Homo sapiens: one gene and its partner. The protein of the gene in region 2 purifies or fractionates together with the protein of the main gene of each other region. This does not show direct contact. Each region holds a gene or a part of one and is shown on either strand. Other genes may lie near its edges. The genes, in order: RUNX3 and SMAD5.

Region 1 (3,814 bases), on a different chromosome or scaffold from region 2:
AGCGGCTGGTGGCCGGCATGCCCGCCACGCTGAGGCTGCTGATGCTCGTGCCCGAGGGCGTGGCGCTGTAGGGGAAGGCAGCTGACATGGCCCCGGGATAATGCATCCTGGGGTCTGGGAAGCGGCTCTCCGTGAGGGTTGGCAGCGTGGGGAAGGAGCGGTCAAACTGGCGGGGGTCGGAGAATGGGTTCAGTTCCGAGGTGCCTGGAGGACAGCAGGGAAGAGGTCAGTTCCAGCTCGAGACAACCCCAGGAGGGCTTCCTGAAGAATGACCTTGGGCTCTGGTTCCCAAGGCCCATCTGGGGGACCCCTAGTTCTAGACCTGGCTCTCCTCTTCCTGCCCTAGGCTGCCCGGGGCCTCCCCCGCCAGGACTCCGAACACAGACCTGCCGGGAAGCTGGTTGGAGCGTGCCCCGGGCCAAGAGGGGCCATGGGAGCCCCCCCACAGCAGCAACAGAACAGAGGAGGGGGTCTATTCTTCTTTTTAAATCCTCCTTCCCAGCCTCGCAGAGGAGAGGCCTAGGATGCGGTGGTGGGGCTGAGGGCAGAGTCAGCTCAGGCCTCCCAGCAGCCCTGCCCAGGCAGGTTCCTCTCCCCACCGGCCCATGTTAACAGCTGGGAAGGCCGTGGATGTGTAAAGGGCTCCAATGACCGTGTGAGACTGGGAGTTGGAACCCGCTTTTGAAGACAAGAAAATGGAGGCAGAGAGAGAGCAAGACTGAGTCTCTGTGGCAGAGAAAGGACTGGTTCTCATCACAAGGCCTCTGCTGGGGACACACGTGCCTCTCCTGCCCAGGTGCAGCACGCGGAGGTTCTGTGCGCTCACACCTGGGTTGTGGGCACTGAGTTCACAGGAGCTCTGGCCTCCACCTCACCCTGGGCCTGTGTCTCTGGAGCCGACTCGTGGCCACACAGTGACTGGATGCCACCCTAACCTGCCTTGGCAGCAAAGTGAGACAGCAGTCAGACAAACTTGGGGACCCAGACCCCAACCTGGTCACAGTGTCCAGCCCAGACTCTGCCCCTGCTCCCCCAGGAATGTGGCTTCTCAATGGGCTCCAAGGCAAGGGTGTTCCATCCTCTGTCCCCAACTTTTGTCATCACAGACCCCCAAAACCTCAGCATTCAAAGGGGCTCAGGGATTGAGTCTAACACCCTTGATGGGGAAACTGAGGCCCAGACAGGGTGAGGCACTTCCCTCAGGGTCACACAGCACATTGGACCTGGCACACAATCCTAGGGCCTCTGGTCCTGAGCCCCAACACGTACTTGAGAGGGAGCTGTCCCGTCTTTGAGGCAGCACAGGATCAAGGCTTACTGTGTGGCTTCTGGAGCCGGACAGTTATCCTGGTTTGGACACTTACTAGCTTTGTGTCCTTGGGCAAGTCACTTAACCTCTCTGCGCATCAGTTTCCCCATATAAAACATGAGACGATAACAGTTCATCAGGATTCAGTTAATTCACATCGAGTACTTAGAATGGCACTGGGCACAGAGCAGGGGTCCATGAGGCTTTGCAAGGCCACTGTGGCTGTGGTGTCTCTTACTCTGGGTACCCAGGAGAACTGGCTCATTCAGGGCCCTGCCAAGTTGAGGCCCTGGTGCAGGGCCTCCCTTCTACTCTGGCAGCCGGGGGAGGTGGATGAGCCCCCAGCAGTGGTCCAGAGGTGCAGTCTGTCCAGCCCAGCAACCCCTCTGTGTCACCCACCAAAGGATAAGGGCCGGTGCTAGCCGGAGTGGGCTCTGCCTGCCACGCCGAGGCTTGGCTGAGGACGGAGAGCTATGAGCCTGAGGTGTGTGTGACTTCGGCTGGGACTTGGAACTTCTCGGGGCTTTGGGGTCTTCCCAAGTCAGCTGGGGTATGTTTCCCTCAGCAGCGTACTCTGGCCCTGGGCGTGGATCCGAACGGAGTGATGCTCCTGGCTTAAGGTAAGAAGATGTGGGGACAGCAGTCTGGGTGGCGGGGGCCTTCTGGGACATCTGGGATGTTCCCTAGTAGGTCACTTGGCTGTCCCGGCCCCTTGAGGCCGAGAGCCTCCGAGGCACCTGGCTGCCAGTTTTCATCTGGGGAGCCCCTCGGGGGGAGAGGTCCTGTTGCAGGTGCTGGGCACGTCAGCACAGCTGAGATGGGTGGGGTGGAAGTGGGTGCTGGCCGCCTGATGGGAACCCCATTCTCAAGACGAAGGAAACAAATGGGGACCGCAGGATACAACGGCAGGACTGTGCCCCTCAGAGCTCACGCGGGCTGCAGGGCGCTGGGCTGGGCCTCCCTGGACCTGCCACCATCCCCTCCAGCCTCTTTCCTCAGGGCCACCACCCCTCCTCCGGGGTGGTGGGGGAAGTACCTGCCCTCAGCACTCCCTCAGACCCCCCAGCAGCTTCCTTGGAGCTCCTGTACCCCCACCCTGCGGCCTCGCAGCCCCAGGAAACCCGAGCTGCCCGGGGCACTGTCGAGTGGCCAATCCCAACAGTGGAAAGAAATGTTTATTTTCTTCTCCAGATTGTCCGGGCTGCTGCATGGTGGCTGAATGAGCCCTTTCAGCTGTGAGAAGCCCCCATTGTGGGCGGCTGCGGCTGGGGGCTGGGGCTGGGGTATGGGAGGTGCTGGGGTCTCTGCACTGCTTGCCAGTGACCAATATTGGAGGGTCAAAGCACTTAACAGGCACCGAGGGAAGTGGTGGTGGGGTGTCCCAAGGGGGATCCCCAGGAGGGAGTCCGAGGGCAGAGGGAGGAGGGCCTGTGAGAGTGACTTCCCAAGCCTAGGTCTGCCAGCAACCCCTCTTTGTCAGGGACCTCCTTCTCCCCACTTCACAGATGAGAAAACTGAGGCTGAGTTTAAGTGACTTGTCTAAGATCATACAGCCAATGCCTGGCAGAGCCTGAATTCCTAGCCTGGTCCAGCTGACTGCAGAGTTCATGCTCGCCCTGTCCTGGTCATCCGAGGCCCTTTCTCTCACCCAAAGGGGATGGGCCTGAGGATGGAGATGCCTGGCTGCCTGTGGCCCAGTGCTGTGGGGGGCTAGCGAGGGACTGGGCCAGGCCTCAGGAGGGAGCAGGCAGAGAAGCAGAAGTCAGCCACTGCCCCACACAGGCTGGGCTCCTTTCCTCCCAGCCCAGGATGGAAGCAGCAGCTGTGCCTGCCGTGGGGCCAGGCATTGATTCCCAAGCTGTGCCCACCCAGCAGTGGATGGGCAGATGTGGGCTCTCCTTCCATGGGGGCTGGTGGACAGGAAGCCACTGTTCACCCCACCTCCTGGATTCTGGCTCCCCCGCTGAGCCCCGATCCCCTGGCCTGGCTCTGTCCATGGCAGAGAAAGGCTGGCTCTCAGGCTACTGCACCTCGACAGATGCTGGCCCATGGGTAGCAGAAGCAGAGGCAGCTACGCGGCAGGGGTGGGCGTGAGCACAGCGTGCAGGGCTCCTTCCGCTACCTCTTGAGAGCAGACCTCCAACTCCTGGGCTCGAGAGCTGAGAGTCTCAAATGCACTAGCTCCTGGGCTCAGAGAGGCTGGGCCTGGGGCTTCTCCCAACCTTGGCGTCTCAGCAGGACCAAGGCCAAAAGTCCTGAGCCCAGGCCAGAAGGGGAGGGGTCCTCTCTTCACACTGAAGGCCTGCATCCAGCCCCTGGCTGCAGCACTATGCCTGGAACAATGTCAGTAGAGAGACCCAGTCGGCCCCCACCTCAGCGTGGCACCGGAAAAGGGGGTGGGGCAGGCAGACCGGTTGGCAGCCCTGTTCCAGGCCCCTTTATCTGTCCCCTCAGAAGTACAGAAAGTTCTTGGGAGCAGGTACTGTGGAGACTGTGGACCTGGTC
Region 2 (3,814 bases):
AATTGCTATCACTGTTACTACTATCACTACCACCACCTTCTACTACTTTATTAATACTGGTAATATGAAGTGATCCATTCTGCGTCATAGCTGCTTAATCATGGGGGGTCAGCAAGCTAATCTAGCTGGGTAATCTGCCCCTTCCCCCAAGAGTTTGGGCTCAGGGCGAAACATGAGGTCTCTATAGTCTCTTTCCAATAGTTGAACTAGTAAGACATGAAATTTTCCGTTATTTAAAAGTATCAGAGCTATGCCCCAGTCTTTTCTATAGAATGAATCATAGCTGAGAAAAATGTATACAAAAAATAAGACATTTCTATTGGCTGGCTGACTACTAGTCACACTTTGGCTATAGGGGAATACATAAAATTCCTAGACTCCCTCCTAGCAAATAGCAAGCTTGGGAGTTTTTCAGCCTATACTTCTCTATTAAATCCTTTTATCTTCCTTTCTTCATCAGTTCCTTCAGCTATCAGCTTTCCTTGGACTCAGTAAGAAACTGAGAATCATATCATACCAACTGTCTAAAGACACTCTAAAGCTCTTAAGTTGAACTTTCACAGACAGCATAATCACTGCTATCTGCTATCCTTTCTACTAGTCTCCACATCCAATGTTATTTTCAGTCTTTTTACCACACATCTCCACGTGAAACCCAGATAGACTCTAAGGTAACCACTGTGATTCCCACCTCCAGGTATTCAAACCATTGGGTAATTCTCCCTGCTTGAGTATGAGTATGACCTATCACTTCCTTCTAACCAACAGAATATGGCAAAGGTGACAGCGTATGTATGATTACATTCCACAAGAATATAATGTCCTTCTTACCAGAAGACCCTCTCTTCCTTACTGGCTTTGAAGAAGCTGTCATGAATGTGAACTACCTATAAAGAAGGCTATGTGAAAGCAACTAAATCTGTCAACAATCACATGGGCTTGGAAGCAGATCCTTCCCTAATTGAGCTTCTGATAAGACCTTGGCCCTAACCAACACCTTGATTACAGCGCCTTGCAAAGGACCCAGCTAAATGTGACTGGACTCCTCACCCAAAGAAACTGTGAGGTAATAAACATGCATTGTGCTAAGCCACTAAGTTTGTGGCAATCTGTCATGCAGCAATAGATGACTAATGCACTCAGCTAGCAGCTCAGCTTATACCATTCATTATAAAAAAAATTTACTGAGCATCACCTACCAAGTGCCAGACAACAATATACTATTCTAAGCACTAAGGATAGAGTAATGAATGAAATAGAGGAAGACTCTGCTCATGTCAGTCAATAAACAAAATAAATATCTAATATAGAGTCAATTAGTGATGCGGATATTTGAGCAAGGACTGAATGGAATGAGAAAATGTGCCATGGAAAGATCCTGGGGGAGAATAAGTAGACAGCAAGAGTTAAAGCCTGGAAACAGGAGTATGGCAAGTCCAAGGAACAGAGAACTCTGAGGATAGGTCATACAGAGTCTTACAGAAATCTCTTTAAGTGTGACAGCCTTGAAAGTGTTTTCAGTAGGAACTGACATGATTTAGTATGTTTTTAAAAAATCATTCTGGCTGTTGTGTGGAAAACACAATGGGTTAAGGGGAAGAAGAGACGCAGAAAGACCAATTAGGACACTACTTAAGGTGAGTGATGATGATGATGTACTGTACTAAAGTAGTGATGTCACAAATGATGAGAGGTGACATATTTATTAAGACATATTTTGAAGGTGCAGCAAACAGCATTTGCTCATATTTTAAATATAGGATTTAAGTAAGAAGAATAAAAGATGACCTTGCAGTTTAGGGCATTAGCAATTACATGAATGCTGTTGCCATTCACTTCAATAGGGGAAACCAGAGAAAAAAAACTGCGCTTAGACATATTACATTTGGTATGTTTAATAAATAAATATTCAAGTGGAAATGTCAAGTAGGCAACTGGATACACAAATCTAAAACTCAAGGGAGAAGTTGACTTGAGTTCAAAATGTGAGCATCAGCTTATAGACAATCTTAAGACATGTGACAGCATGAAAGCACATAAAGAAATAATATAAATGGAGAAAAGGTCCATGGACTGACTCCTGTGAAAACAGGAGAATACGCCAGCAAAGAGGGGCAAGAACAGTCAGTGAGGTAGGAGAACCAGGATAGCATACTGTCTTAGGGGCCAAACACAGAAAAAGTTTTGAGTAGGATGGAAGGAGATCAACTGTATCAAATGCAGTTGAGCGGACAGTAAGATAAGACTCAAAAATGACCCCTTGACCTATAAAAAGGCAGTCACTAGTGATCTCGACAAGTTAAATGGTAGGAAAGAAAGACTAACTAGAGAAGTCACAAGAAAAAAATGAAACATAAAGATAATAAAAATGGAGAATCCTCTAAAAGGACCAGTGGAAACAGTGCAGTGATTGGGGTTGGGTTATGTGAATGAAGTGAAAAGCAGAATTTTTTTTTAAGTTTTATTTTAGGATGGGTAGTATCATGGCATGCTTGTATGCTATCAGAAATACTCTGGTAGAAAGGGAAAATATAATGCTGGAGAGAAGGATGATAACTGTAGGAACAAAGTTCTTCATTTGACAAAAAGGAATGGGATATAGTACACACTTGGAGCTTAGGCTTTAAATAAAACAGAGACAGGTCATCCACAGGAAAAGGCAGAGTAGATATATGGGTGCTTACAGTGAATAATGAATTAGAGTAAGCCACCTGAGAATTGTATCACCTACATATAAAAAGCTAAACTCAAAATCCAATAGCCCTTCCAAGATTAGAATATTTAAGATGGAAACACAAAGCTAATACAACCTTTTCATTACTAAATCTAGTTACATGCATATCAGGAAGAGAGGTTTTTTGTTTTTGTTTTTCCAAATTCTTCTCAGGAATAAGACCTACCTGGACTCTCCACTCTCTTATAGTGGTATGGGTTGATACAAACTTCTTTTTGCTTAGATCCAAAAGGAAATTCACAAATATCCAACGGCTTTAGCTCATGATGACTCTGCAAATCCGGCCAGCGCCAAACACGACAATATATAACATGGGGTAAGCCTTTTCTGTGAGAAACCTGCAGGCGTCCATCTAAAGATCTGGGAATAGTGACACATTTACTCGGCTGTCCTGGACTGCTCAAGGCTTTCTCCAGTTCCTCCATGGCACCCTTTTTCTTTTTTAGTTTCTTCACCAAAGCATCAACTGCCTTTTCTGCCCATTTCTCCTCCTCATCACCTTGTTTCCAGCCCAACAATCGCTTTACTGCTGGACTAGTAAAAGAAAACAAGCTGGCCATTGACGTCATTTGACACAAATCTTCGGAGACCTTCCTGTAACTCAAAGTCAGTGGCTACCGAAAGAACAGATCACAGGTGAAACGTCATACACAGGTCCTAAGCAGAAGTTCCAATTAAAAAGGGAGGAGTAACATTTATCTTCACAAGTGCCATATGCTTCTTTCATTGGGTCAAGTCCTGAAAGAGAAAGGGGGAAAGGATCCTAGTTTAAATCAATTCAATATATACAAATTTAAATTAATATAATCGAAAGGCATATTTTATTAAATAAGAACAGAAAAGCATTACAAAGTAAACAAAAAATTGATAAATTTTCTCCAAAAGTTCTGTGACCACTCGATTCCTTCCCCATAATATGAACAAGTAAGACACTGGCAATGTCAAATGATAACCAGAGGCAAAACCAGGTTGCTCTACCTCCTATGTATTATCCAAAAATAGCTTCTGGACTCCCTTTGATTAGGCCACTAAACCCTAAAACACTCTTCTAAAATTTGATTCTGAAGTACTTTTCTTCAC

Evidence for each region.
Region 1: the proteins of SMAD5 (region 2) and RUNX3 purify together in Homo sapiens (affinity purification with western blotting, with the first as the bait; one study listed by BioGRID). This does not show direct contact.

Annotation. Positions count from the first base shown.
Region 1 is NC_000001.11:24,902,463-24,906,276, forward strand, and holds part of RUNX3 (runt-related transcription factor 3), read right to left. Parts: intron 205-3,814; coding exon 1-204. UniProt on the Homo sapiens protein: Forms the heterodimeric complex core-binding factor (CBF) with CBFB.
Region 2 is NC_000005.10:136,153,250-136,157,063, reverse strand, and holds part of SMAD5 (mothers against decapentaplegic homolog 5), read right to left. Parts: intron 3,473-3,814; 5' UTR 3,304-3,472; coding exon 2,901-3,303; intron 1-2,900. UniProt on the Homo sapiens protein: Transcriptional regulator that plays a role in various cellular processes including embryonic development, cell differentiation, angiogenesis and tissue homeostasis.